Homo sapiens: one gene and its partners. The protein of the gene in region 4 purifies or fractionates together with the protein of the main gene of each other region. This does not show direct contact. Each region holds a gene or a part of one and is shown on either strand. Other genes may lie near its edges.

Region 1 (4,748 bases), on a different chromosome or scaffold from region 4:
TGAGAAACGTGGAAGGGACACCTGTCAAATGTGTGCAAATCTGGAACAGGCAGAATCCTAACAGAGATGAGAATCAAGGAGGAAGACACATTCAACACACTGAAAAGCTGAGTACAAAATAAGATTATAATGCAATAAAAGTAAAGTACTGCCTTAAGATTTAAAAAAAAAAGGAAAGAAAAGAACTGTATAGGTACTTGAAGGACAAGACCTGGCTTGGCAGTATTTGTGATAAAGATCCCATGATTTTAGTTAATCAAGAGTGGAGGGTGGGCATGGTGGCTAAACAACTATAATCCCAACACTTCAGGAGGCCAAGGATGGAGGATTACTTGAGGCCAGGAGTTCAAGACCAACCTCGGCATCATAGTGAGACCCTATATCTACAAAACATAACTTTTTTTTTTTTTTTGGAGACAAAGTCTTGCTTTTTCGCCCAGGCTAGAGTGCAGTGGTGCAATCTCAGCTCACCGCAAGCTTTGCCGCCTGGGTTCAAGCAATTCTCCTGCCTCAGCCTCCCGAGTAGCTGGGATTACAGGCACCTGCCACCATGCCTGGCTAATTTTTTTGTAGTTTTTAGTAAAGACAGGGTTTCATCATCTTGGCCAGGCTGGTCTTGAACTCCTGACCTCGTGATCCACCCGCCTCAGCATCCCAAAGTGCTGGGATTACAGGTGTGAGCCACAGTGCCCGGCCCTACAAAAAATAACTTTAAAAAACTAGCCAGGCATGGTGGTACATACCCATAGTCCTAGTTACTCAGGAGGCTGAAGTGAGAGGCTCGCTTGAGCCCAGGAGTTCAAGGTTACAGTGAGCTGTGATCATGCCACTGCACTCCAGCCTGGGTGACAGAGTGAGACCCTGTCTCTAACAACAAAAAAACAAAACAAAAGTGGAATGAATTGACAGTACAGCATGACTGTCAGAAAGCTTACGTAGTGTCAGGTTACTTTCTTAGTAATATAGTGTCTAATGCTGGTGGTGAAATCCTTTCTGAAGAGCAAACTAATGTCTCCAAAGCTGGCTGGCAAACATTCTTCCCTTCCTTGGACATGTATGTCTTTTCTCCCAGCTAGAAGTAGAGTCTGTTTCCCTTCTCCTTGAATCTGGGCTGGTCTTGTGACTTGTTTTTATCAACACAATGCAGCAGAAGTTACCCTGCCAGTTCCAGGCCTACCTAGACCTGTGGGGCCCGGTAGCCTCTTTTTTTATTTTTTAAATTATTTATCTTTTTTTCTTCCTGACAATAAACTTAGGAAGCTCAGTAGCTTCTGCTTTTGTTCTCTTGGAAGCCTGCAGCCACGCTACAAAGAAGTTGTGGTGAGACGACTAAGTGAGGATGGACTATGAGAGATGTGGGGGAAGCAGTGAGGTGCCCCAACCGAGCTTCCTGCGGAATGCAGCCCAGGAGTGACCCCAGCCTTGAAATCAATGGACTTAAGCACCACTGTCTCTGCAGAGCCCTGCCCAGATTGCAGAATTGTGAAAAGATAGTTGTAAACACAGCAGTAGAACACGGAGACATGAGGAAGATACTAGAGAGGACAACCGAAACGGGGTGGTCTAGAGATCATGCCTGTGGAAGATTGTCCAAGGAATGGGTTTTGTTAGCTCTATGGGCAATAAGAGAAGATAATGTTTGTTTGTTTGTTTATTTATTTATTTTGAGACGGAGTTTTGCTCTGTGGTACTCTTATTTTTTGTAATGAGCTCACTGCTCATTATATCCAGCATGTTGCCAAGTCAGAATCATTTCATGTTCACCTTTCAGTAACCCACATTCTGTTTATCCAACTGTAGACTAGCTTAGGCCTTGGTCCTACCTCATCCCTGAATTACTGCTATTACTCCTTCTCGGGGCTTACTCTTCCTACTCCCCACTTCAAGTACTTGTTTTGTTCATGTCAGCCCATCTCAAGAAGTGCCTATGGAGAACATTTGGGAGCTGGGCCAAAGCAGCATTTCCACAGAACAAGCATCTGGACGAACTGTCTTCCCTATTTCCTTTGCAGCCTTAGACCTGAAGAGGTTTGTTTTTGGCTTTCGGCTAACCAAAAAATCTCAAAGCATCTGGCTATACTCTGTGAGGTTATCTGTATGTTTGGGTGACAGAGCTCCTACATGAATAAGGTGAACGCACCCTCATTTTCTTCCTTTAGAATTTAGATTTGACCTTTATAACATATGCAGTGTGCATGAGCACACATAAAAACTTAACGTTTGATAACAAAAAGTCTTTTTTTTTTTTTTGGAGATGGAGTCTCGCTCTGTCACCCAGACTGGAGTGCAGTGGCGTGATCTCGGCTCACTGCAACCTCTGCCTCCCAGGTTCCAGTGATTCTCCTGCTTCAGCCTCCCAAATAGCTGGGACTACAGGTGTGTGCCACCATGCCCGGCTAATTTTTGTATTTTCTAGTAGAGATGGGGTTTCATCATATCGGCCAGTCTGGTCTCGAACTCCTTACCTCGTGATCCGCCCACCTCAGCCTCCCAAACTACTGGGATTATAGGCGTGAGCCACCATGCCCAGCCTTTGAATAGTCCTTTTTATAAAAGCAATCATGAGTTTCCTATAGCTCCTTTAAAAAAAAAATCTCTGTGTTTTCTGTTCACTACACTAGGATTCAAGTACAACAGCCCCTTGCTTACCGCTTCTACTTCCTTTAGCACTCTGTGCTTAAGACTAAGGTCCTCAAACACAGCTTCAATCACCATGTCGGCCTTTTCAAAACCTTGGTAATCAAGCTGCCCAGTCAAGTTGCTGAAGATGGAATCCCTTTCAAATGATGTTAGAGCTTTCTTCTTCACTTTGTCATTCAATCTAGAAAAAACACATTCCTAGTTAGATGGGAAGAAAAGGAAACTAACGTTTATTGAATGTCCATGGGCCAGAGCACACCTGTGTTTTTCACCAACTCTGTGAGGTAGTTATTCTATTACTCCCATTTTGAGGGAGACTTTCAAGTTGTTTAGTCTTAGAGGGACCTGTGGTCAAATAGCTTGATAAGGGAGGGTGCTAGCATTCAAAGACATGTTAACTCCCAAGTACACATTCTTTCTACCATAGAATGCCTCCAAATGCCCAATTTACGTAAACTAAATCACTCTTAAACCAGTTAAATTTGCCAAGAGGAGTAAATAACATGAATACTAGAATGGCAAAACAAAAGAGGAGTTCTGGTAATTCTCTACCTATGACAGGGGAAGCAGCCAAAGTGTGTCTGAGACCACATGGTTTATATTTGCTTATCGCAAATATATAATTTTATGTTATTCTGTAGTTGTAATCTTTTTTTTTTTTTATTTATTTTTTGAGACGGAGTCTCGCTCTGTTGCCCAGGCTGGAGTGCAGTGGCGTGATCTCAGCTCACTGCAACCTCTTGTCTCCTGGGTTCAAGCAATTCTCTGCCTCAGCCTCCTGAGTAGCTGGGATTACAGGCGCCCACCACCACGCCTGGCTAATTTTTTTTTTTTTTTTTTTAGTAGAGATGGGGTTTCACCATCTTGGCCAGGCTGGTCTTGAACTCCTGACCTCGTGTTCCATCCGCCTCAGCCTCCCAAAGTGTTGGGATTATAGGCGTGAGCCACCGCGCCCAGCCTGTGGTTGTAATCTTCTAAAGAACAGAGACCAAGCATTATTTCCTATATTCTCCATCTACTTCCCACTCATTACCTAGTAGCACATTGCACTGATTACATAAAATATTAACTCAAGGTTTCTTTTTTCCCATAGGGAGCAGAAAAGGATTCCTGTTATTCAGACATTCAACTGATTATTTTTCGTCGCCAAGGGAAACAGGTTCTCTTAGATTCCGTCTGACCACACTTTCAGAATAAATTACCTACAGTTTTCCTCTAAATGAAGAATGAAGCTAAACCCCATTCACTAATTTCCTTAACCAAAAGCAAAATTAAGGCCACAAGATAAATACAAAGGAGTATTCAAAGAAGGTCTTAAGGGCTGGGCATGGTGGCTCACATCTGTAATCCCAGCACTTTGGGAGGCTGCAGCAGGCGGATCACTTGAGGCCAGGAGTTCAAGACAAGCCTAACCAACATGGTGAAATCCCGTCTCTATAAGAAAAACAAAAATCAGCTGTGCATGGTGGCGCATGCCTGTAGTCTCAGCTATTCGTGAGGCTGAGGCATGAGAATCGCTTGAACCCGGGAGGCAGAGGTTGCAGTGAGCCAAGATTGCACCATTGTGCTCTAGCCTCGGTAATAGAGTGAGACTGTCTCAAAAGAAACAAAAACATCAAATAAGGTCTTAAAAGTATGGGCTCAAAGCTTTTGTTTTTGACAATCATGACAGCAGTCAGCAAACAAGATACTTGTCAGCATTCAAAACATTATCAGTTGCTCTAATTCTAATGCCTGATTAAACTATTCCCAAGAGAGGACAGGAACTATTGTCCCAAGTCAGCAGTGTGGTGAGCGGCACTCGCCAGAACCTGATGTTTCTAAGACGAAAAGGGGAACCCAGGACACTATTCAAGAGAGACTGGGGGAGGAAACTATTTTAGAGCAACAATTTCTTACTTTGGTGATGGTATGGAATGCTGTTTGGGATGCTTGCATGCTAGTTTCAGGGCACTGCTGCTATCTAGCACACATCATTTTTTTGGTCAGAATCTTCTACTACAACTTGTTATCTTACAATAATCTGCCAACACGATGAAACCTGCCAGGTCCTGGTTAGCATTATGGCAGCAATATGTGAGCTTCTCTGCAGAAAAGGGATAACAACA
Region 2 (4,748 bases), on a different chromosome or scaffold from region 4:
TTAGCCAAGGATACCTATGAATTTTGGTCATGTATAGAATACGTGTAATTTTTGCCTCCATATATCTTAAGGTAAGGGAGTCATTTTGATACGTGAATGGTATTTTTTGTCAAAATATGAATTTTGATATTTAGATCCTTATCTAAAAGTAATTGCATAATTTATCGAGAATATTTTATTGAATCCTTGATTTAAAGCTTAATATTTTAAAAAGGTATTTTATAAATAGGTGCTAAAGTACACATTCTGCAGGAGTTGTATCATAAAAATGACACTCATGCTGGGCGTGGTATCATGAGCCTGTAGTCCCAGCTATGCAGGAGGCTGAGGTGGGAGGATTGCTTGAGCCCAGAAATTCAAGGCTGCAGTGAGCTATGATTTCGCCTTTGTCTAGCCACTGCACTCCAGCCTGGGCAACAGAGGGAGACCCTGTCTCTATAAAAAGAAAAAAAAAAAGAACGACACTTGTTATAATATTATTATAATTAATAATTTAACTATACATTATCACATATTAAATTATAGCCTGGGCGTGGTGGCTCACGCCTGTAATCCCAGCACTTTGGGAGGCCGAGGTGGATGGATCACCTGAGGTCAGGAGTTTGAGACCAGCCTGGCCAACATATAGTGAAATCCCATCTCTACTAAAAAATACAAAATGGTGGTGTATGGACCTGTAGTCCCAGCTACTTGGGAAACTGAGGCAGGAGAATCACTTGAACCCGCAAGGTGGAGATTGCAGTGAACCGAGATCGTGCCACTGCACTCCAGCCTGGGGGACAGAGCGAGATTCTGTTTCTTGAAACAAGAAAGAGAGAGAGAGGAGAGAGAGAGAGAGAGAGAGAGAGAGAGAGAGAAAGGAAGGAAGGAAAGAAAAGAAAAGAGGGAGGGAGGGAAGGGAAGGGAAGGGAGAAGGAAGGAAGGATAATTTGAGGAAGAAAAACTTGAAATAAATAATAATTGCTGATAATTACATGTACTTTTGGCTAAGCCTAAAATGATATCATTTTGGGACATAATTAAAAGGTTTAGCATGTTACAATAAACTGTTCATGTATAGGAAATAGAAGAGCAGGAGAAAATGTTAAAAGAGAAGAAGGCAATGACAGCGGAAGCCTCTGAGTTGGACATTAACAATGCAGTGGAATTAGAATGGAGAAAAATAAGTGACTCTAGTTTGCTGGAAACAATGCTGTCTCAAGCGGACTCACTCCATACTTCAAATTCAAATAGTTCTGGTAAATATTTAAAAATCCTTTTACATTTGGGAAAGTGATCCTACGGTAAGATATTTATTTGGCACACTATAAGATTATATCTCCTGTTTTCAAATGATTCCATGTCCAACCCTCTTTGCCAGCTGCTTAGTAACCAGTGAAAAATGACATGATAGGAGATCAAAGACTTGTGAGCAGATGTTTGTGAACAAAGATTACCTTTGCCAGGAAAAGATCAGGAAATTTGGCTTAGAGCCCAGTCTGATCATTCATGCAGCAGGTGATATACTTCAAGTGAAAACAGTTTGCTCTCTCCTGAGTGATCTTGAATTACCTCTAATTCCCTAGTCCCTTTAAATAGCTTATCTTCATATCTCAATTATCCTGAGATGCTGTTTGTGTTGAAAAGATCCACCTGGTATGTAAGCTTTAAAGTCCATAAATATTTTAAGTCGGCAGGTAGGTCATTTTTGGAGGCAGTTGTTATTCTTAATGAGTGTCACAAGTGTTTATTGGGATGTTCTTCGTATTCTAATTATATGACATCAAGTATAATACTATATGTATGTTTCTCTAGGTTTCACAAATTCTGCCATGCAATATAGCTTTGTTTCTGCAAACGAAGCACCATTCTACCTCTGGGGATCATCAACTAGTGGCTTGACCAAACTCTCAGTAACAAGGCCTTTTGGAAGAGCCAAAACTAGATGGTCTCAAGTGGGTAAACTTAATGATACATGTCCATCTATCTATTTATCTTTTCTTAAGAGCTATATTATCTTAGACTGTATAAATGAACACCAATAAACATTGTGTCTGTCTTCTTTCTCCTAGGTTTTTAGTCTGGAAATACAAGCAAAATTTAACAAAATAACTGCAGTGGCAAAAGGATTTCTTACTCGTAGACTTATGCAGACAGATAAGCTGAAGCAACTTCGACAAACTGTAAAAGTAAGATTCCTGTAAATCGTTTGTATTTCACTTCTGTCTTAGTTTCTATCAGTCTTGTGACAGCTGAGCTAACAGATTAGTTCAGAACTTAAACGCTTTTTAGTCACTGTAATCTAGGCAGTTTTAGAAGTCTGATTGTTTGTTGCGGGAAGTCAGGGACCCCGAATGGAGGGACCAGCTGGAGCCGCAGCAAAGGAATATAAATTGTGAAGATTTCATTTTAATATGGACATATATCAGTTCCCAAATAACACTTTTATAATTTCTTACTCCTGTCTTTACTTCAATTGCTGAACATAAATTGTGAAGATTTCATTTTAATATGGACATTTATCAGTTCCCAAAATTAATACTTTTATAATTTCTTATGCCTGTCTTTAATCTCTTAATCCTGTTATCTTCATAAGCTGAGGATGTAGGTCACCTCAGGACCACTATTGTGTTAACTCTACAAATTGATTGCAAAACATGTGTGTTTGAACAATAGGAAATCAGTGCAACTTGAAAAAGAACAGAATAACAGCGTTTTTCAGGGAACAAGGGAAGACAACCATAACTGACTGCCTGCGAGGTCGGGCAAAATAGAGCCATATTTTTCGTCTTGCAGAGAGCCTATAAACGGACGTGCAAGTAGGGAAGATATTGCTAAATTCTTTTCCTAGCAAGGAATATTAATAATTAATACCCTGGGGAAGGAATGCATCCCTGGGGGGAGGTATATAAACGGCCACTCTGGGAGTATCTGTCTTATGCGGTTGAGATAAGGACTAAAATATGCCCTGGTCTCCTGCAGTACCCTCAGGCTTACTAGGATTGGGAAATTCCACCCTGGTAAATTTGTGGTCGGACCAGTTCTCTGCTCTCAAACCCTGTTTCCTTTTAAGATGTTTATCAAGACAATACGTGCACAGCTGAACATAGACCCTTATCAGTAGTTCTGATTTTGCCCTTGTCCTGTTTCCTCAGAAGCATGTGATCTTTGTTCTCCTTTTTGCCCTTTGAAGCATGTGATCTTTGTGACCTACTCCCTGTTCTTGCACCCCCTCCCCTTTTGAAATCCTTAATGAAACTTGCTGGCTTTAAGGCTCAGGTGGGCATCATGGTCCTACCAATATGTGATGTCCCCCTCGGACGCCCAGCAGTAAAATTCCTCTCTTTGTACTCTTTCTCTTTATTTCTCATCTGGCTGACACTTATGAAAAATAGAAAGAACCTATGTTGAAATATTGGGGGCTGGTCCCCCCAATAATCGTTAATCTTTCTCAGATAATATTATGAATAACATGTAAATGAAGCAGTTTGTGTGTTTTTGACTTGCTTGAAAGTGAGTGGTTTGACTTCTGATAAGTAATAGTTTTATTTATGTTCTTAGTACAGTCGGTCCTCTATCTCTGGGTTCCACATCTGTGGATTCAACGAACCATGGATCAAAAATAATTCAGAAAAAACAAATGATGGTTGTGTCTGTACTGAACATGTACAAATTTTTTTTCCTTGTCATTATTTCCTAAACAATATAACAACTATTTACATAGCATGTACATTTATTAGGTATTTTAACTAATCTAGAGATGATTTAAAGTATATGGGAGATGTGCTTAGGTTATATGCAGATAACTATTTTATATAAGGGACTCCAGCATCCTTGGATTTTGGTATCTGAGGGATTCATGGAACCAGTCCCCCACAGATACTGACGAAAGACTGTAATTTTGGATTGACTGAGAAAAAGAAAAAAGCAAACTCCAGTGATCACAAATCTTTCTAGAAAAATGTTTTTGAAGGAGCATTTCTTTTTTCAGGATACTATGGAATTCATAAGAAGTTTTCAGTCAGAAGCACCATTAAAGAGAGGCATTGTTTCAGCTCAAGATGCTTCACTTCAGGAAAGAGTGTTAGCTCAGGTAAATACATGGATCCTGAAGGCTTTTAAGACATGGACATATTATATTTCTCCTTTTTTATTTAATCACTGAAAATAGGTTTCAATGAAAACTATTTTAATCTTTTTCTATAAATAAGTGTACATGGTATATAGTATTCCTGAACTCTAACCTCATCTTTTAAATGTATACAATATTTTCTTCTCTTGTGCCTAGTTGCGAGCTGCCTTGTACGGTATTCATGACATATTCTTTGTAATGGATGCAGCTGAAAGAATGTCTATTCTACATCATGATCGAGAAGTTCGCAAAGAGAAAATGCTCAGGCAAATGGTATGTTATATGATTTCTAATGAATAGAGTTCTTCTGGGTTTAGGGTAATTGATACTAAATGTCAGTTTTGGTTGACTTCAGCACCCTTCTTCTGATAATTCTTAAGCACAAGTAATTCCTGGAATTACTAGCAGCATTTAAATCTGTAGACAGATTTAAAAGAATTACATCATTTAAGAATTACATATTGTTTTCTTATTGGATTTTAGAGTTGAAGCTTTGAATGTTTTGCTCAGATGGCTTATACAATCTATCAGCTGCTCCTGATTGAATTTCCTTGAATTCAATTATAATGTGGGTTTTGCTTTTTTTGAAATCTGAGTTAGAAAACAGGCTCCAAGTTAATTTGAAGTATATCAGAGT
Region 3 (4,748 bases), on a different chromosome or scaffold from region 4:
GTGGTGGGTGGTTTGGGGTCCTGTAAGACAAAGCTGCAGGAGCCTTTCTGGGCGTTTGGTGGAGCCTAGCGAGTAGCCAGCCCCAGAATCCAGTGTCTCCCAGGGAAGACGGCTCAGCGGAAAAACCCGGTTCATGCTGACCCGTGGCTTATCAGTGCTGGGGGACCTACAGAGTGAGTCCTCTAGGCGGCACTCCCTGCCTATGCAGGAGACCCCTGGCACCATCCAGGACTCCTAGCAATGGGAGGACATTCAGCTGGGCAGAGGCTGGGTTAGATCAGGACCCACCCCAGGCTGTCTAGGCTGGGTCAGGACGCCACTCTCTGTGCACTTGCTCTCCCCCAGCTCCTGCACAGGCAGAGCACCCAACTGCTGGCACAGAGACTCAGCCGGACCTGCTTCCGCCAGTGGAGACAACAGGTGGGAACCCAGGAGATGTCCCCTCTGCACTTCCTTCTCCATCCTCTGGCCTGTGAGGCCTGGGCAGTGAATGACCTTCAGCCTACACCTCTAGTTCAGTATTTTTACTATCACCCTCCCCAGGGCCACCTCCTCTACCACCTTCCTGTCATTTCCAGGCACATCAGCTTCCTTCCGTCTGCAGTCTGCATAAGAACAGTTACTTCAAGGCCAGTTTCTCTCTCTACAGTGTTGTATTAAAAAATACATCAGTGGAGGCCGGGCGCAGTGGCTCACGCCTGTAATCCCAGCACTTTGGGAGGCCGAGGCAGGCGGATCATGAGGTCAGGAGATCGAGACCATCCTGGCTAACACGGTGAAACCCCGTCTCTACTAAAAATACAAAAAAAATCAGCCAGGCGTGGTGGTGGGCGCCTGTAGTCCCAGCTACTCGGGAGGCTGAGGCAGGAGAATGGCGTGAACCTGGGAGGCAGAGCTTGCAGTGAGCTGAGATAGCACCACTGCACTCCAGCCCGGGCAACAGAGCGAGACTCTGTCTAAAAAAAAAAAAAAAAAAAAATATATATATATATATATATATATATATAATCAGTGGGCCGGGCATGATGGCTCACGCCTATAATCCCAGGATTTTGGGAGGCCGAGGCAGGAGGATCACTTGAGCCCAGAAGTTCAAGACCAGCCTGGGCAACATAGTGAGACCCCATCTCTACAAAAACAAAACAGAAAAATTAGCTGGGTGTAGGCAGTGCACACCTGTGGTCCCAACTACTCGGGAGGCTGAGGCGGGAGGATTGCTTGAGCCCGGGAGGTCAAGGTTGCAGTGAGCTGTGATCATGCCACTGCACTTCAGCCTGGATGAGAGTGAGATTCCATCTCAAAAAGAAAAATCAGCATAATATCTTAAAAATTAACATGAAATGTGTTTTAAGGCTTTGCTGGGATCTTGCTTTTTAAAAAGCCAAGAGGGATCACACAGAGCAGCATCCACACGTCCCCAGCTCCCTCTTCCCGTTCTGTTGTCCTGTTTTCACCATTCCCCGGACCTCAGGCCGCTGCCTCCACGCATCCCCCTGCAGGAGCCCTTTGCCACCTTCTTTCATGAAGGTCATTCCTCAGGCCACAGATGGAGCGTGTGTTGAGCATCTCACCGCCAGGCACAAGGCTGGCCCTTCCTAGTGGAGGAAGTGGGAGCCTCGACTAGAGAGGGAGCCAAGAGGGACGAGCTGGGCAGGGCCCCGTGATCACCACGGCCTCCTTGAAGGGGCTATAGGGAAATGATCTGGTCTTTCTGGCCCTAGCTGGCAGCCAGGAGGCAGGAGCAGCGGGCGACAGTGCGGGCCCTGTGGTTCTGGGCCTTCTCGCTGCAGGCAAAGGTAATTGGGGCTCTGCATCCTACCATCCCTGCCTCTCCCTCAGGCCTTAGCCCTGCCTTGGGTGGAGGGAGGGCACCTGGTCTGTGGGGGAGCTCTAAGCAGGGAGACCTGGGCCTCACCTCCTGCCCTCCCTGGAGGTGTGGGCCACGTGGCTGGCCTTTGTACTGGAAAGGAGGAGAAAGAAGGCGCGGCTGCAGTGGGCGCTCCAGGCCTACCAGGGGCAGCTCCTCCAGGAGGGTGCCACGCGGCTCCTGCGCTTTGCAGCCAGCATGAAGGCCTCCCGGCAGCAGCTGCAGGCCCAGCAGCAGGTCCAGGTAGGCCCAGGGCCCCTTCCTGTGGGGAGCAGGCAGGGTGTGGCATGAGCTGACCAGAGGCTGTGTTGTAGGCGGCTCACAGTCTCCATCGTGCCGTCCGCCGCTGTGCCACGCTCTGGAAACAGAAAGTGCTGGGCCGGGGCGGGAAGCCTCAGCCCCTGGCAGCCATCGCACCCAGCAGGAAAGTGACGTTTGAGGGTCCCCTTCTCAACCGCATTGCTGCTGGGGCTGGGGATGGCACCCTTGAGACCAAGAGGCCACAGGCTTCTCGGCCTCTGGGAGCTCTGGGCCGCCTGGCTGCTGAGGAGCCCCACGCCCTGGAGCTGTGAGTAGCCTGTGCTCACCTTGTCCTCGCTTCCACCCTGGGCAAAAGGTTGGATGGCATAGCAGGGAGGAAAACAGCCCTGACGGGATGGGACGGGCTGGTCACGGCCTTGTCACAGCTGAGCTGCTGGGAACCCCCTCTTCTCCAGCCAGATCCCATCCCTCCCACGGCAAGAGGGAGAGAATGGAGTGGGATTTCCAAACCCTCTCTCCTTTGCCTGCCAAAGCTCAGGAAATAGGTGTCCCCTCCTCTGCAACACCTTCCTACCCTCTCTCCCGTCCTGCTGACACGATCTTTTCCGGAGTCATACACGTAGTTGACAAAGGGAACAAGCTCAGCTCCTACCCGTGCCTGCCGGCCTCTCTTCTGCTCCATCACAGCCAAGACACTGGCTTTTTGTCAGAAGCCCCTCTTTCTTGTGTGAGCTGGCACCTGTCCCTCTGCCCACCCCTACTATGGTCTCCTCAAACCCTAACCTGCCCTGCCCCATGCTGATGAAGCTGGTGGCTCCCACAGCAACCAGCACTACCCGAGAGCCTTGGGCCTCGGGGGAGATGTCAGGTGGGTGCATGGGGCCTGGGTCCCGGTCCCTGCTGTGCTCCTCACTGTTTGACTGACCTTGATGGGATCCTGAACGTCTCAGAGGCTGCTCCCCTGTGACATGGACCCTGGCGACCTGTACACCAGCGTCACCAGGGTTGTTCTGCAGGTCAAAAGAGACAATGTGGGTGAAGCAGTCCCCTGGCGTCAGGTACCTTTTGTCGGAACTGCTGGGAGCTCTATGGCCCAGGCCCACCCCAGCTTACTTGCTGACCTTGGCCTCGCCTTTCCTGACTTTCAGTCTCCCTATAAAATTGGAGATCCCACAGAGATCTCAGACCCCCCTGCAGCCCCTGGTCAGCCCAGGGGAACAGACCCCATGTTTCTTTCCAGCAACACTGCCCACTCAGCGAGGAAGCAGCCGCGACGCCCACACTTCCTGTTGGAGCCTGCGCAGAGCCAGAGGTCCCTGGGGTGCAGCACCGTGGGCAGGCAGGGGGAGATGGTCAGGGGTCCCCAAAGGCAGCGGGCACCTCCATGTGGGGCCTGTGTTTTGGCAGCCCTGGGGTGGGTGGCCCCCTTTCCTTCTTGTTCTTTGGTCCCAGAGGAGGGTCCTGTGGCCTGACCAGGCTCTTGCCTTCCCTGTGCTCAGGCCTCAGAAGCCACAGGAACATGGCCTAGGCATGGCTCAGCCAGCAGCCCCCTCCCTGACGCGGCCCTTCCTGGCAGAGGCCCCGACAGCACTGGTCCCACACAGCCCCCTGCCTGGGGCCCTGTCAAGCGCCCCTGGCCCGAAGCAGCCCCCGACGGCAAGCACAGGCCCGGAGCTGCTGCTGCTGCCTCTTTCCTCCTTCATGCCCTGCGGGGCGGCTGCACCAGCCAGGGTACGTCCTCCACCACCAGGCCTGGGCACTGGGGCTCTCACTCTGGTCTGACTTCTGGTGCTTTCTCATGCCACAGCTGTACTAGTTTCTGGAAAACCTTGGCACAGGGAGGCCACTCATCCATTTGACAAGCATAGGTAGCCACTGCACACCAGGTCCAAGGGCCACAGCAGTGAACAGCCAGCCAAGGGCCCTGCCATCCTGAAGCTTATATTCTAGTCAGAGACAAGCAAAGAAAAACCCCTGCCTGCAGGCCAGTAAAGTGGCTGCAGATCACGTAGGGTCCTGCAGGCCACAGTGAGAAGTAGCCTGGGATTTGAGAAGAGTAGGAAGTCGGGGAAGGGTTTTGGCAGGGAGCACCATGTCAGGTTTCTGTGCAGGCTGTGGTCACCATGACCACGTGGTCCAGGCAAGTAGTACTGGTGGCCTGGGCTCAGCGGTTGCCACAGAGGGGACAGGTACTCTCTTGGAGGCAGATGAGGCAGGATATGCTGCTCTGAGGGAGTTGCTGAATGAGGGGAAAGAAGGAATCCAGGCTGATGTGGGCTGCTGGCTTGAATAACTTGGGAAACAGAGTTCTTTGACTGGAAGAAGGAACTGGGGGTGGGGACTGGTTTGGGGTGAAGTGTCAAGAGTGTTTTGAACCAGGCTCTTGATGTCAAATTTGAGAGAAAGCAAACGTTGAGTCTGACCTTCAAGGAAGAGGTCAGGGCCAGAGATTGAGAAGAATCTTCAGCACAGGCCGAAGGTAACCCCAGAGCCACTGCGGCCTCTAGGAGGAGAGTACAGGGGAAGGAGAGAGGGGAGGAGGCTCCAAGCAGGGAGCCTGGGTGGGGATGGCCAGGGGGTGTGAGAGCTCAGTAATGGAAGTGACAGCTGCTCTAAGGCC
Region 4 (5,683 bases):
TTGTTTCTGTGTTAAAATGATTTGCATTTTTACAGTTGCTTTACATTACATTTCTAAATAATTATTTTAACTAAATTGGTTTTGGAACTATGAAGGCATTTTAAGCATTCATAGTTAGATGCTGTAATAAAACTGAAGAGAACTCCTAACATAGTTTTTAGAAAATCTTTTTCACATGAGAAAACGAATAGTATTTTAAATGTAAAAATACATTCCCAGGGAAGGTGCTTATTTTTCACTGTCATAATTAAAGGATTTCAAACTGGAATTTATTCTTACCATCTTCTTTTCACTGTTTTTTGTTTTTGTTTTTGTTTCTTGGTGACTCATACTGTTTTCAGACTGTGGGAGTGTTGTCTTTTAATCTTATAATTTGGATTTGTTAGTAACATAGTCTCAATCCACTTTCTCTGGTGCAAACAACTTTAGTGCTGTTTGATGTTGACACATGCTAATAGGTAAAAATGTCAGCTTTAAGACCTAGAATGTCAAAGTGTAGGGAGAGATTTGTAAATTATTATTTGTCAGGGTATAAGGAGAGATTTGGGTTTAGGGTAGAATGGGACTTACTTTCAGCACAGTGGGAAAGATAGTATTTTGAGATTTTTAATGGCCTTAATGGATAGGTGAATGTAAGTGTTTATTTGGTAGTTTTAATTTTTGTAATTTCGTAAGGGATTTTTAAGCATTAGAATTCCAAGTAGGGATAGGAACTATGCAGTGACAGGATAGAATGTATAAAAGCAGTTAATAGGCCTGCTAAGTCTAGCTTTCTCAATCTTGCAGTCCTCTTTGGCTCTCTTTTCCCACTGTTTTTTTTGTTTTTTTTTTTTTTTGGTTACCCAGATTTGATCTTCCTTTATAATGTCTGTTCCATTTGTAACCATTGACTATCTTGGTTTGGGACCTTATTTCATACCTGGAGCTTCCTAAATGATTTCTTACTAGTTCACCTTGTACACTACCACTGAATTTAGATAGTTTAAAAATTCTTTCACCATTGCTCATAAATTGTTCATTGCTCATAAACCATAACTCCTCATTGTATACTACTTAAAGTTCAGATTCCTTTGCTTTCTACTGAATGTTCTCTACACTTTTGCCACCAACTACTTTTTTCATTTGCTAACTGCTTTCTTCCTCCTGAACTCTTCTAATTAAGGTGGAATTCACCTCCTAATTCAGGTGAGCAGTTTACCTCACCTGAACTTTTCTAATTCAGGTGAGGTAAACTGCTCTGTTCATTGTCCTTCGAACCTATTCGTTTCAGTGTTTCTTTTAATACCAGTCATCCTTCCCAAATACCCTACTGCTCCTCTTCATCTATCCTTCAAGGAACAGTTTGAATCTTTCCAAATAAGACTTCTCTAGTCAGTAATATGTCTCCTTCCTTATTATTAGTAACAAAATCTCTTTTTTCTCTAAACTCAGGGTCCTTAGCCCTATCATTTACCTGGTAACTAATCATGGAAAGACTGATGATAATTCTTGTTTTAATGTTTTATCTCTTCTATCATGTAACTGTTTAATATTTATGCCACGCCTTTTTCTCATTTTGATTGTTAATCCCTTCAGAACAAATAACAATCAAATTATCTGTGCAATAAGTTAGTGCATTTTATATAGTAAAATCTGTAAACACTTGTTGGTTACTTTGTCATATAAAAAATGCAATTTATAAATGAAAAAACTTATGCATACTTAATTTCAGTAGTGAAGAACAATTACACTATCACTGCTATTTTAAAGAGGTAAAACATGCAAAAAAGTTATATTTTATTAATGTGTTGTCATCTCTTAAGATGTAAAAACTTAATAATTAGAAATTCTTTTGTAAAGAGTGCTTTATAATTTGCTTTTCCTTTTTAATCCAAAAGGTGGCAATGAGAGCCTTGGGGTTTGATGTAAAAAAAGCTGATGTACTGAAGATTCTTAAAGATTATGACAGAGAAGCCACAGGGAAAATCACCTTTGAAGATTTTAATGAAGTTGGTGTGTATTTTAATAGTCTTTGTAATCAGCAGCTGTTAGGAAATTGTCTGATTAATATCACTTTTTAAATTTTAAATTCTCTAGGTTATGGAATTTTCTTATAGAACACTGGTGTATAATGTGACTCTTACTCAGTTTTGTTTTGTTGGTTTTTTTTTCAAAGAAAAAATATGGCTTTGCTCTGAGATTTATAGTTTTGTCTTTTGTTTTGTTGTGAAGATTCTAACCAAGGAACTATTGTGTAGCTTTTTATAGAAAGATGCTTTTCCAAGTTGTTTGTATTTATATTATGTGATAAAACTTGAAGGGTGATCAAAAAATTATTTTTGCTTAATAAAACAGAAAATTTGATATCCTGCTGTTTGGAAAATGTTTCCCAAGACCTTTCTGGTATGTGATTTTTGTTGGCTAAGTGGGAGAAGAGGGAACTGGTAGTAGTTGGTATCTTTGGCTGTAGATGAAATGCACGACTTCAGGTTGACAAAGTTTATGAGAGGCTACATCCTCTGGATGACCTTGATCTCAGTGGATAAAGTCATCTGTTTAGAGGGTAGTAGTAAAGGAGGCAGTGGGCATACTGGAAGCAGGAGAAAACATCCTAGTACCACCAACTGAAGATAATGTGTCATAGGCTTAATATGGCTAAATTTTTTTATAGTTGATTTTAGTGAATTATTTATAGCATATATAGACCAGGCTTTTTCAAAATAGAAGAGTCCGGAAGGCAAGGATGTTGCTATTATAACTTAAATGTATTGTCTAGAATATTATCTACAAAATATGTAAATATTCAGGTTTATTTCTTTTTTTTTTTTTCTCTAAACCAATGGGTCACGATATAAGCACATCATATAAGTATTTTAAGATATTTTAAAAATTTGGAAACAAATTCTGCTATATACACAAACCCCTTATTTTAAATATTAATCAAGAAGCAATAGGGGAAGCAAAAAGAAATGGCAATTAGTAGACGCAGAGAAAATTTAGATTCATGTCATTAGTCAGTTTTTTAAATCCAAAAGCTCAAGTCATAAGCAGTTGAGATGGAAAATAAATGATGAACCTAAGAGAAAAAAAACACAGCACAGAAGATCCTCAACTTATGAACTAATATATGACTGTTTAGAGAGGCAACTTGTCCATTGGGGACATTTTCCTTTTTTCCTCTAATTTGTAGAATTAATTATTTGAGGAAAGGGAGAGAGCCACCTTTTGTTCTCCCAGAATGGACACTCTCCTGAAGTTTATGATCGTAGTATTCCTAGTTTTACCTTAGATTGTTTATTTGTAGAAACAAGGTGTTTGTATATAGTGGAAATGGTACTATTAGGAAGGAGCTATAATCCAGGTATGTTTAGTACAGTATAGTGGTTTAGCACTTGGAACCAGATTCCCTTGGTTCATACCTTGGTTTTGCCACTTTACAGCTCTGGAACTTGGTCTTTTTAATACCCCATGCCTCATTTTCAACTATAAAGTGGGGATCATTGTATTCTCTCATGAGATTCTTCTAAGGATTAAGTTAATGATATGTGAAGTACCTAGAAAAGGGCCTAGCATGTTGTAAGTGCTACTAAGCATTTGCTATTATTATTACTTTAAAAAATTGTCTTTGTTTCAGGGGCTCGAAATAATCATATATGCATCACTGGGACATAAAATAGACTTTGTGTATATTTTTTATTGACTTTTTTCATAAAGGCTATTGTAAGCACTGTATCATCACTAATAATTTTACAAAATATGTTATTTCACCTTAAATGAACACAATTTAAAAATTGTGATTTTTTTTTTTTTTTTTTTTTTTTTCTTTTGAGACAGAGTCTCGCTCTGTCGCCCAGGCTGGAGTGCAGTGGCGGGATCTCGGCTCACTGCAAGCTCCGCCTCCCGGGTTCACGCCATTCTCCTGCCTCAGCCTCCCAAGTAGCTGGGACTACAGGCGCCCGCCACTACGCCCGGCTAATTTTTTGTATTTTTAGTAGAGACGGGGTTTCACCGTTTTAGCCGGGATGGTCTCGATCTCCTGACCTCGTGATCCGCCCGCCTCGGCCTCCCAAAGTGCTGGGATTACAGGCGTGAGCCACCGCGCCCGGCCAAAAATTGTGATTTTTATTGGCAGTTGGGACCAGAATCCCATGCCACCTCCACTTTTTCCTGACACCCCATCTGTTCTATGTTATTAACAGAGCAGAAATACTGGGTTCCTTCTAGAATAAATAGATGTGGCTAAACTTCAGCTTTGACACTAAAAGATTAACCTTTTGACAGGGTCAACATGTATCTTAGCTATCTTAAGGCTACCTATGGAGAGTACCAGGTGTCAAATAAAAATGTATTACTGTTTGGGAATCATTCAGGAACTATGTATTACCCCTTTTGTTGATTATTTTTAACTAATCACTGACCACAGATTAATATGTTTTATACTTTGGGACAGATGATTCTAAATCATAACATTTGAGTCCTAGTTTTATGAACTACCCAAGGACACTGTTCCACAGATATATCTGGATGAAGTTTGGCAGTTAACTATTATAGACTCTTCCTAGTACTGGAAAAAAGCTTTAAAATATATTTAATTTAAGTTTAGAGTCAAGACAGCCTGAGGCTAGTGAGTAACATAGATATTTTAGGAATTAGTGTCTTTAAGACTAACATAAGTCAAACGTTTGTACACTATTTTTGACATGTACTACTTATTATTGCTGATTGAGATTGTAATACTGTATTATTGTCTTCATTTTGCTTATTTAACACTGAATTTTTTGGTATTAGGTACTGTACTGGGGTTGGGAAGAAGACTTAATTAAAAGTTACTAAAAGGTTCTTCTTTCAGGGAGTTTACAATGTAAATATAGGTGACAACAGGCTATAGTACTATGTGGTAAATTGTAATTTTGTCTAGGACAGAAGTCAGCAACTATAGCCTTTGGACCAAATTCAGCTGCTGCTTGTACACCACCACACCCCTTCTTTTATGCAGCTTTTGTGCTACTATGGCAGAGTGAGTAGTTAGAGACTTTATGGCCCTCTACAAAGCCTAAAATATTTACTATTGGCCTTTTACAGGAAAGATTTGTTAATCCCTGATCTAGAGGAATTGAAGTCTTTGCAGAGGAGATTTTAAATTTAGGCCTTTGGAAATGTGAGTAAGATTTCATTCCAAGATTGCCAGGAAGAGTAGAGAAAAAGCATTCTAGGCTTAGAAAGCAGCAACAACAAAGAATGGTACTAGACGGATAGCATGTTTGGGAAACTAGGTAGTGTTCTGGGCTAGACATAGGGAAATGACTGGAAACATAGGATTGGGCCAGATTGGTAAAGTCTTGCAAAACATGAAGATTTTGAATTCTAGTCAGCAGAGATCATTCACAATTTTTAAGGGAAGGGGATATGATATGTTTGAGAAAGAAAACTGATGAGAGTATTATTGATGATGAGTTGGAAGGAAGAGAGACTGCAGACAGAAAATACTATTTTTTTCGCTGAGGATGGCGAGGGTGAAAAGAAAATACATTTAAGAATAAAAAAGAGGCTGGGCTTGGTGGCTCATGCCTGTAATCCCAGCACTTTGGGAGGTCAAGGCGGGAGGATTGCTCGCTCACAGGAGTTTGAGACCAGCTGGGGCAACAAAGTGAGATCCTGTCTCTACAAAAAAATTTTAAAAAATTAGCCAGACATGATGGCACAT

What was found.
Region 1: the proteins of CETN3 (region 4) and HADHA purify together in Homo sapiens (affinity purification with mass spectrometry, with the first as the bait; one study listed by BioGRID). This does not show direct contact.
Region 2: the proteins of CETN3 (region 4) and CCP110 purify together in Homo sapiens (co-immunoprecipitation; one large-scale study listed by IntAct). This does not show direct contact.
Region 3: the proteins of CETN3 (region 4) and SFI1 purify together in Homo sapiens (affinity purification with mass spectrometry; one large-scale study listed by BioGRID and IntAct). This does not show direct contact.

The regions. Positions count from the first base shown.
Region 1 is NC_000002.12:26,198,500-26,203,247, forward strand, and holds part of HADHA (trifunctional enzyme subunit alpha, mitochondrial precursor), read right to left. Parts: exon of another isoform or gene 3,821-4,748; coding exon of another isoform or gene 3,734-3,820; intron 2,822-3,733; coding exon 2,650-2,821; intron 1-2,649. UniProt on the Homo sapiens protein: Mitochondrial trifunctional enzyme catalyzes the last three of the four reactions of the mitochondrial beta-oxidation pathway.
Region 2 is NC_000016.10:19,540,827-19,545,574, forward strand, and holds part of CCP110 (centriolar coiled-coil protein of 110 kDa), read left to right. Parts: intron 1-1,060; coding exon 1,061-1,238; intron 1,239-1,794; coding exon 1,795-1,934; intron 1,935-2,051; coding exon 2,052-2,168; intron 2,169-3,970; coding exon 3,971-4,072; intron 4,073-4,267; coding exon 4,268-4,384; intron 4,385-4,748.
Region 3 is NC_000022.11:31,611,421-31,616,168, forward strand, and holds part of SFI1 (protein SFI1 homolog), read left to right. Parts: intron 1-345; coding exon 346-420; intron 421-1,721; coding exon 1,722-1,796; intron 1,797-1,933; coding exon 1,934-2,110; intron 2,111-2,181; coding exon 2,182-2,435; intron 2,436-3,368; coding exon 3,369-3,440; intron 3,441-3,627; coding exon 3,628-3,859; intron 3,860-4,748. UniProt on the Homo sapiens protein: Plays a role in the dynamic structure of centrosome-associated contractile fibers via its interaction with CETN2.
Region 4 is NC_000005.10:90,401,994-90,407,676, reverse strand, and holds part of CETN3 (centrin-3), read left to right. Parts: intron 1-1,877; coding exon 1,878-1,992; intron 1,993-5,683. UniProt on the Homo sapiens protein: Plays a fundamental role in microtubule-organizing center structure and function. As a component of the TREX-2 complex, involved in the export of mRNAs to the cytoplasm through the nuclear pores.